Homo sapiens: one gene and its partner. The protein of the gene in region 2 purifies or fractionates together with the protein of the main gene of each other region. This does not show direct contact. Each region holds a gene or a part of one and is shown on either strand. Other genes may lie near its edges.

Region 1 (4,558 bases), on a different chromosome or scaffold from region 2:
TTTTGGGATTAAGTTCTTCATTCACTAAGGAAGGAATTGGGAACACAAAGGGTGGGGGCAGGGGAGTTTGGGGCAACTGGTTGGAGGGAAGGTGAAGTTCAATGATGTTCTTGATTTTAATCCCACATCATGTATCACTTTTTTCTTAAATAAAGAAGCCTCAACACAGTAGATAGACAAAAAAAAAAAAAATGGAAATTTTATAATTGAATAATATAATAACCAAAATAAAAAGCTCAGTGGATGGACTCAGCAGAATGAAGGGGATAGAGAGATTAGTGAATTGGAAGACAAAACAACAGAAAATGTCAACTGAGCAACAGAAACAAACTAGACAGAAAAGGCTGGGCACAGTGGCTCACGCCTGTAAACCCAGCACTTTAGGAGGCTGAGGCGGGCGGATCACCTGTGGTCGGGAGTTCTAGACCAGCCTGGCCAACATGGCGAAACCCTGTCTCTACTAAAAATACCAAAAAAAGGCTGGGCGTGGTGGCTCACACCTGTAATCCCTGCACTTTGGGAGGCCGAGGTGGATGGATCACCTGAGATGAGAAGTTTGAGACCAGCCTGACCAACATGGTGAAACCCCATATCTACTAAAAATACAAAAATTAGCAGGGCATGGTGGCGCACACCTGTAATCCCAGCTACTCAGGAGGCTGAGGCAAGAGAATCGCTTGAACCCAGGAGGCAGAGGTTGCAGTGAGCTGAGATCGCACCACTGCACTCCAGCCTGGGCAACAGAGCGAGACTTCGTCTGAAAAACAAAAACAAAAAAAAAACAAAAACAAACAAAAAAACCCACAAAGAAACAAAAAAACTAGACAGAAAAAAAAATAAACAGAGCCTTGTAAAGTGACCCCAAATGTGTATACACCAAACAAAGCTGCAAAATGTATAAAGCAAAACTGATACAATTGAAAGAGGAATTGACAAATATACAATTATAGGTGGATACATCAACACCTCTCTCTCAACCATTGACAGAACTACACAGAAAATCAGCAAGAACATAGAACTTATAAACATCATCAATTACAAGGATCCAATCCACATTTATAGAACGCTCCACCCAACAACAGAATACCCATTCTTTTCCAGTGCCTCTGGAACATATGCTGAAACAAACCATATCTCGGGACATTAAATAACATCGACTAATTTAAAATTGCTGAAATCATATCGTTTTCTCCAACCACAGTGAAAAGAAACCAGAAATTAATAAAAGAAATAACACAGGAAAATCTCCATACGCTTGAAACTAAACAACACACTTTTAAATAATCCACGAGTCAAAGGAGATGTCTAAAGGGAAATTTTTAAAAATACATTGAACTGAATGAAAATGACAATACAAATTATCAAATTTCATAGGACACTATTCTCCAATCAAAGGAACTAGGGCTCCTCAAAGAAATATCTGATTCCAGGATAGGGACATGAAATGTACAATGTGAGTCTCAAGCATTTTGCAGTCCCAGAAAGTGAGGAAGTGCTAAACCAAAACAAAAGAAAAAACACGTGGTGATATGTTAAAGGGTCACAGGAGTCAAATGAAAAAGTTCCCAATGTCCAAAGCTGGAACTACAAAATAGAGCAGTATTGGATTATAAACCAAAATTTAAAATAAATATCCATGAGTTGGACACACAGTGGGGAACAACACACACTGGGGCCTGTGGTGGAGGGAGCAAGCCGGGGAGGGAGAGCATCAGGAAGAACAGCTAATGGATGCTGGGCTTAATACCTGGGTGATGGGTTGGTCTATGTAGCAAACCACCATAGCACACATTTACCCATGAAACAAACCTGCACATCCTGCACATGTACCCCAGAACTTAAAAGTTGAAGAGATATATATATATATAGATATATATATCTCCATGAGTACATGCAGATATAACTAAATGATTATATAAATAAATAAATGGAATAAAAGAGACAAATATCACCTGGACAAAATTTCAAATAAATTATATAGATACTTGTGATGGTTAATTTTATGTGTCAACTTATCTAGGCCACAGTGCCCAGATATTTGGCCAAACATTCTGGATGTTTCTGTGAAAATGCTTTTGGATGAGATTTACATTTAAATTGCTGGACTTTGAGTAAAGCAGATTGCCCTCAATAATGTAAGTAGATTTCATCTAATCAATTGAAGATCTGAATGGAACAAAAAGAGGGACCTCCTCTGAGCAAGAGGAAACTCAGTGGACTGCCTTTGCACTTCATCTGCAGCACTGGCTCTTCAAGGTTCTGCAGCAGATGGTCTTTGGACTCAAACTGCAACTCTTACTCCTTCCTGAGTCTCCAGCCTGCTGACCATGACTGATACCATAATCCACCCTCATGAATGGAGAGCATAACTCCCCAGTCCTTAAGTGTGGACTGAACCTTCCAAAGAGTGTAGTATGGAAAGGGGTGGGGAGGGAAAGAGTAACTTCACAGTGGAGAAACTTGACAAACACTACCTTAACCAAGTGATCAAGGTCAACATCAATAGTCAAGAATCATTTTGATAATATATGCCCTTGATATGATGTAATGAAAATAGCATTTTACATCTGTGATCTTCCTCCCAAAAACCAATAATCCCAGTCTAATTATTAGAAAAACATCAGACAAATTCTGATAGATGGACATTCTATAATATACCTGACCAGTATTGCTCAAAACTGTCAGGGTCATCAAATATGAGGAAAATCTGAGAAACTACCACAGCCAAGACGTGCCTAAAGAGACATGAGAATTCAATGTAACGTGGTGTTCTGGATGGGGATCCTATTACAGAAAAGAAAATGAGGTGAACACTAAGGAAACCTGAAAATTGTGAATTTTAATTAATAATATACCAATATTAGTTGATTAGTTGTAAGAAGTATACTATATTCATGTAAGATGTTAACAATAGGGGAGAGCATGTGTGCAGAGCAAGGGAAAAATGAGATCTCTTTGCATTATCTGCTCAATTTTTCTGTAAATATAAAACTGTTCTTAAAAATAACCTATTGGCCGGGCATGGTAGCTCACTCCTGTAATCCCAGCACGGGGAGGCTGAGGTGGGAGGATTGCTTGAAGCCAGGAATTCAAGAACAGCCTGGCAACATGGCAAGACCTTCTCTCTACAAAAATTCAAAAAATAAAAATAAAATTGGCCAAGTGTGGTAGTGGGCACCTTTGATCCCAGCTACTGGGAGGCTGAGGTGGAGGATTACTTGGAACCCAGGAGATCAAGGCTACTGTGAGCTGTGGTCACACTACTGAATTCCAGCCTGGAAAACAGAGTGAGATCCTATCTCAAAAATAATAATAATAATAACAATAATCTATTAATTTAAATAATTTAAATAATTCACATCCATAAAAAAATCATCATCACATTTTCATCACATGGTTTTAACTGATATGTGAAAAAAAGAGCAAATGTGTATAGAAAGTTCCGAAAGAAGCAAAGGTCGAAGAAGTCTAAAAGCAATGTAACCTTTTTCACAATTAAGCTTCTATTTTTTTCCATAGACAAATTAAAGATATATGAGTACATATACGAATTTTAGGACCAGGCACCGTGGCTCACGCCTATAATCCCAGCCCTTCAAGAAGCTGAGACAGCCACATCACTTAAGCTTAGGAGTTCAAGATCAGCCTGGGCAACATGGTGAAACTCCATCTCTACAAAAAATACAAAAATTAGCTGAGTGTAGTGGCGTGTGCTTGTAGTCTCAGCTACTCAGGAGGCAGAAATGGGAGGATCACTTGAGCCCGGGAGGTCGAGGCTGTAGTGAGCCATGTTCGCACTACTGCACTCTAGCCTGGGCAACAAAGTGAGACCCTGTCTCAAAAAAACAACAACAAAAGAATTTTATGTCCTATATATTTGTTTTTTTGTCTTTTGGGTTTTTTTGAGGCGGAATCTTGCTCCGTCGCCAGGTGGAGTGCAGTGGCACAACCTCGGCTCACTGCAACCTCTGCCTCCCGGGTTCAAGCGACTCTCCTGCCTCAGCCTCCCGAGTAGCTGGGATTACAGGTGTGTACCACCATGCCTAGCTAATTTTTGTGCTTTTAGTGGAGACGGGGTTTCACCATTTTGGCTAGGATGGTCTCGATCTGTTGACCTTGTGATCCACACGCCTCAGCCTCCCAAAGTGCTGGGATTACAGGTGTGAGCCACCATGCCCAGCATGTCCTAGATATTTGTACATTTGTAGCTTAAATTATTGTGAGACTCAACTTTTCAGTATGATCTACCTGGGAATCTTACTGGAAATATTGATTTGGGATCCTTACATAGTACATTCAGCAACTGAATTCTAGGCACATTAATTTTTACCTTCCACGGGCATATTTTTTTTCACACACTCCAATGTTGTATGAACCAGCTCTTTTGTAGTCTTTTTTTCAAGAAGCTGAGAATATTTTTGAAAGAAAACTGGAAAAGAGAATAAAGACCATTTATTTTCCTGGTAGCATTATGACTTTGCTCTTTATCGTTACTTTCTTGCATTCTTTATTGAAATAAAACTTACAAATGCCCTATTACTGGAGTAGAGGGAAAAGA
Region 2 (5,953 bases):
ATGGAAAAAAACAATAGAGGTACATAGAAAATAATGCAAGTATGAAATAACAATTACGAACTCTAGGAACCATACTTTTCAAGTATGGAAATGTAATTCTAGTACAGTATACAAATGCATATTCTGAAGCATGTAACAATATAGATAATAACCACTAATTTAACTAAGAAACTGTGACATCTATATTGGAGAATAGGAGAAAAAGAATTTGCAATGTTTGCATATGTTTGTTAGTTTGGAAATAAAGCTAAAATGCTTTTCTATTATAGAAAGAAATGGTTCAAATACAAAACAATATCAAGATATAGTATTATAAACATATTATTTATAAATATTGAGATCAATTCAAGAAGAAACCACACTGTGGTAAGGGACTGGCAGAACAGCTAACTTAAAAAACTATAAAATGTTAGTTATATATAGTATATATTTTATATATAGTAATATAAAAAAACTGATGAAACTTGTTTTTCATTCTAACCTTTAGTTCCTCTTGCTTATTAAAAATTTGGTATTTAAAATAAATTTGCAACATATAAATGAATATCTCCAGCAATCTCAACCACACATTTCAAAATGTTTTATTTTTATTCATTTTCAGGCAGATTATAATTTTATTTCAATTATAAGGCATAGTCTGTTTTATACATCAGCAAAAGTTAACATAAGAAAATATTGGCCAAGTAAAAGTAGCATGCTTAAAGATAAAATAATAAGTATATAAACTAAGGGTATTATTGATGTTCAGTATTGCTCACAATATGCTTTGTTTCATTTTGTCATGAGCATAGTAGTAGAGAAATATTTCTTTTTAAATACATGATGTAGAAATAAATGACATGGTTTTCAAACACGAATATATAGAATGTTAGAATGAGTTTGGAAATGTAGATATGCCTTCTTAAATAGAGCAAGTACACTATAGACAGAAGTGATTAGAATCATGAGATGCAAGCTCTGAAATGAATCAAAACCTCAGATTTCTGTAATGAGATATAATAGTAATTAATTCCTTGGGCAGTTGGAAAGAATTAAAACCTTAACACTATCATTTAGAAAAAAATACTCATTAAATTAAACCCAGTTGTTATTAATGCAAAAAAATGATGAAACATTGTAAAACCACAGGGGTATACTACTTGAAAATAATGCTTGAAGTTGCATAATAACTTAAATTTGAGATTTAAAAGTAAACTAATAGAAACATGGCTATGTAACACACCAAAAGTATATGAAACTAAAAACAGACTTTACTGAATATTAAATCCAAAGCTATTTCGGAAGGTGGAATTTTCTTCACCCTTCCTCCCAGGGCCCTGTGCCTGAATATCCGAAATAACTGGTTTCAAGAACTTGAACTCACTGGTCCCGGGGCCTCCCGTCAGACACACCTCATACTGGTAGCTCTGGGACAGGGTCTCAGCGCCCCTCACGTCCACCAGATGCCCTGGAAAAGGACCCTCGGGCACCGAGCAGCGACCCACCGAGGCCGCCCTGCTCCTCCTGCACAGCCGCACCGCCACGAACAGGAGCACCGAGAGGAGGAAGAGCGAAGACACCGAGGCCAACGCCACCACCAGGTAGACGGTGAGCAAGTCGGCCTCGGCCTGGGCCTGGGCCGGGGCCGCCTCCGGGAGAGGCAGGTAGGGCTGGGAGAAGCCGTCCACCAGGAGCAAGTGCAGCGTGGCGGTGGCCGAGCGAGGAGGCTCGCCATTGTCCTTGACAAGCACCACGAGCCTGTGCTTGGCTGCGTCGCGCTCGCTCAGCAGCCTGGCGGTGCGCACCTCCCCATTGTGCGCCCACACACCGAACAGCCCGGGCTCCGTGGCCTTGAGCAGCTGGTACGACAGCCAGGCGTTCTGGCCCGAGTCGCCGTCCACCGCCACCACCTTGGTCACCAGGTAGCCCGGCTCGGCCGCCCGGGGCACCAGCTCGGTGCAGGGCGCGGAGCCGTTCTGCAGCGGGTACAGCACGAAGGGCGAGTTGTCGTTGGCGTCCAGCACCAGCACGCGCACCAGCGCCTCTCTGCTCAGCGCGGGGGAGCCGCGGTCTGTGGCGCCCACGCGGAACTCGAAAGCCTGCAGGGCCTCGTAGTCCAGCGACCTGAGGGCGAACAGGTGGCCGTTGTCCGCGTTGATGGAGACCAGGGAGGCGAGGGGCAGGTGCGGGTCTTGGGGCGGCAGCAGCGAGTAGGTGACCTGGGCGTTGGTGCCCGAGTCTCTGTCTGTGGCGCTGACGCTGCCGATGTGCAGGGCGGGGCTGTTGTTCTCGCGGACGAACAGGGTGTAGGAGGTTTGGGTGAAGGCGGGGGCGTTGTCATTGACGTCGGAGACCAGGACCGTTATGTTGTGCTCGGTTTTCAGCCTGGGTGTCCCCAAGTCAGTGACGGTGATAGTGATGTTGTACTCGGCTCTGATCTCTCTGTCCAGCGCGCCTTCTGTAATTAGGATGTAAAAATTCTCCACAGAAGGTTTTAGTAGGAATGGCAGATTCTCTTGAATGTAGCAAACCATCTTTCCATTTTCTCCAGAGTCTCTGTCATTAATCTTAAAAACAGCCAGCGGCGTCTCAGGAGAATTCTCAGCAACAGAGTTGGAAAATGATGATACGATCAGTTCAGGGGGATTGTCATTGGTGTCCAATACTTCCACTAAAACCCTACATCTTGCAGAAAGGCCTCCACCGTCCATTGCCTGTATATTTATTTTGTAAGAATTTACTAACTCATAATCAAGCAATTCTCTGAGAAAGATTTCCCCAGAAAAAGGATTGATTTGAAAGGTTGTTCGAATATTTTCTGAGGCATCAAAAAATGAATAGGATACTTCCGCGTTGACTCCAGAGTCTACATCTTCTGCCCATACCTTAACAATAAGGAACCCAATGGGGCTGTTTTCTGGAGCCTGGGTCTCATACAGAGCCTGGGCAAACTGTGGGGCATTGTCATTGACGTCCAAGACAACGATGCGTACAGTAGAGGTCCCAGACCTGGATGGAGACCCACCATCCAGCGCTGTGAGGGTTAAGCTGAGCTCTCCCTGCTCCTCCCGATCCAGTGCTTTGTCCAACACTAGCTCTGGATATATCATGCCTTCATCACCGCCACTAATGTTAATATGGAAAAAAGAGTTGGGGCTGATCGTGTAGTTTTGGATACCGTTAAGTCCTCCATCTGGATCCTGTGCTCTTTCTAGTCTAAATGCTGTCCCTTCAGCTGTATTTTCTGATATTTTTAAGACTGTTTCTTTGTCCTGAAATACTGGCGCGTGATCATTTATATCCCTGACTCTCAGCTCAGCCCGGTAAATCTGAAAGGGATCATCCATTAAAATTTGGAAATACAGCATACAGGGCTCTTTAGGGCCACACAGCTTCTCTCGGTCCAGTTTCTCATTTGTGAGCAAATTCCCGGTATGTGAATCCAGGAGCAGGTATTGTTTGTTATCATCGGAAACCACCCTGGTTCCCCTTGCAGCCAGCTCCCCCTCTGCTAGTCCCAGATCCTTTGCCAGATTGACCACAAAGGATCCTTTCTCTGTTTCCTCAGTCACCGAATAACGTCCAAACCCAGAACCTGCCAAGGACACTCCCCAAAAAAGAAAAAGAAACAGGACTTGCCTTTGTCTTGGGAAGCACAACTCTCTGACAGCCATAGCTGCTGCATACGTTATTTCCTAGTTGGTTACAGCCACAGCTCCCAGCATAAAAGAACAGCAGTAGGAAACCCTGCACCTACGCCGTGTAGCCCAGGGGTCTTTTTTGTCCTTTCCCTTTCCCAATCTTTGGCAGCTAAAGCTTCTCTTTTAAGTTCATCTGTCCGTGTCTTCCTTTATTAGTGACTTGCATAGCATCCTCAGAGCAATTCCCAAACCGTCTCTTTAGCCTGCAGCGCCACCGTGTGGCCTCCACCAGATTTCAGTAGTTGTACCCATTTGGGTGTGTGTATTCAGACAATTTCCTTTAGTGCCTCATTTAAATTTTTCATGTTTATTTTCGTTTGTCTTGTAAAAATTAATGTTGAGACAGAGAAATAGTCACATTGTTGAGATTCTTCAATTCTTTTTGGGAAAAGTTAAAAATTCAACACTTGAAAATATGTTTCTAGCAATAACTCTGTCCACCTCACTGTGCTAAATTTAGCTCTCTACTAGTCCTTTCATCTCAGACACAACTCTCACACAATGTCAAGAATCAAAGGGAAAATGTTGCTGACATCTGGGATCACCAAAGTAACAGGAGATTTTACTTTTCCAGAAACATCGGGATAAGAACACCAAAACAGACAAAGAAAATATGTTTCACACCTTCCTCAACAAACTTCAAAATCTCATCACACTGATTAAGGAGAATCATCACTCTGTAATCTTGTATAATGCATTTAAGCTGTCCCTCCTCTATTCTCTCATAAAAACTTGTGTATACAACTATGATTGCCCTGCAAATATTATTGCTTCTTAATTCATGCAAATCTATTTCTTCTTCAATGTGTGGGCTACTTAAGGATAGGAACTATGTCCTAATCATCTGTGAGTGACAAATCAGACAAGCAATAAATACTGCCTGTATTAGGACATGCATAAATAAACTCAGATGGGTAGAACCTGAAACGTTTTCCAGTGCCTTTCAATTCCGACCACTTGAAAGTTTTTTTCTTTCATTTACTCTTTGCAATTTCTGTTTCCTTACTTTCACTTGTCTTTGTTTTTCTTGTATTAGCTTTAAAGTAACTTACAGGGTTAAATAAGAGATTGATCCTTATTTTAAGGTCCCCTCTTAATTGAAATTTAGCAGGATCTAACTTCTCTGCACCAAATAAAGGGAGGTAAAGAACAGACCACACTAACACCTATCTTAACACTATTAAAATTAAGAACAGCATTCTAGTGTCTTTTTTCATAGAATTTTATTCAAAGTTCTTTTTAAGTTATTTTATATTTTATTTTATTTTATTTTGATGGAGTTTTGCTCTTATTGCCCAGGCTGGAGTACAATGGTGCAATCTCGGCTCAAAGCAACTTCCACCTCCTGGGTTCAAGCGATTCTCCTGCCTCAGCCTCCCGAGTAGCTGGGATTACAAGCATGTGCCACCATGCCTGGCTAATTTTGTATTTTTAGTAAAGACGGGGTTACTTAACGTTGGTCAGGCTGGTCTCAAACTCGTGACCTAAGGTGATCTGCCCGCCTTGGCCTCCCAAAGTGCTGGGATTACAGGAATGAGCCACTGAGCCCTGCCTCAAAGACCTTATATCTAGAAAGAAGCTCTATTTTGTCTATAATAGGCCCAAATGGATTAAGTCAAGGAATGTCGTGGAGGAAAAGGCTAGACACTACCAATAACACTCTAATAGCTGAATATAAAAGCCGCACAATATAAACCTCTACTTTGTGATTGCTGTTGTTTTTTCAACTGGATGGCACTGGGCTATTAGCCATTAAAAATTTAACAGGAACCTCAGGAACCTCTGATTTGTTTATACAGAATTAAAAGGAGCAAATTAAATATTTTCACATGATCCTATAGAATGACTAAATTTTTTTTTTTTTTTTGGTTTCCAGACTAAAGCCCATTTACACACGCTTAATATCTTGCAGTGGTTTTTCTTCTAAGGCTAATTAGGGGTTTATTTATCATATCACTTACAAGAGAAACATTATATTTCAAATAGGGAACTATCAATGCCGGGAAACTAGAACTTTAAAATAAAAGGTAAAGTTTAAGAAAATTATTGTAGGCTGGGTGCGGTGGCTCATGCCTGTAAATCCCAGCAATTTGGGAGGCTGAGTGGGGTGGATCACGAGGTCAAGAGATAGACCATCCTGGCCACCATGATGAAACCCGTCTCTACTGAAAATACAAAAATTAGCCGAACGTGGTGACATGCAACTGTAGTCCCAGATACTCTGGAGGCTGAGGCAGGAGAATCGCTTGAACCTGGGAGGCGGAGGTTGCAGT

What was found.
Region 1: the proteins of PCDHB10 (region 2) and CLEC4A purify together in Homo sapiens (co-immunoprecipitation; one large-scale study listed by IntAct). This does not show direct contact.

The regions. Positions count from the first base shown.
Region 1 is NC_000012.12:8,129,135-8,133,692, reverse strand, and holds part of CLEC4A (C-type lectin domain family 4 member A), read right to left. Parts: intron 4,430-4,558; coding exon 4,331-4,429; intron 1-4,330. UniProt on the Homo sapiens protein: C-type lectin receptor that binds carbohydrates mannose and fucose but also weakly interacts with N-acetylglucosamine (GlcNAc) in a Ca(2+)-dependent manner. Involved in regulating immune reactivity.
Region 2 is NC_000005.10:141,190,253-141,196,205, reverse strand, and holds PCDHB10 (protocadherin beta-10 precursor), read right to left. Parts: upstream 3,854-5,953; 5' UTR 3,654-3,853; coding exon 1,251-3,653; 3' UTR 559-1,250; downstream 1-558. UniProt on the Homo sapiens protein: Potential calcium-dependent cell-adhesion protein. May be involved in the establishment and maintenance of specific neuronal connections in the brain.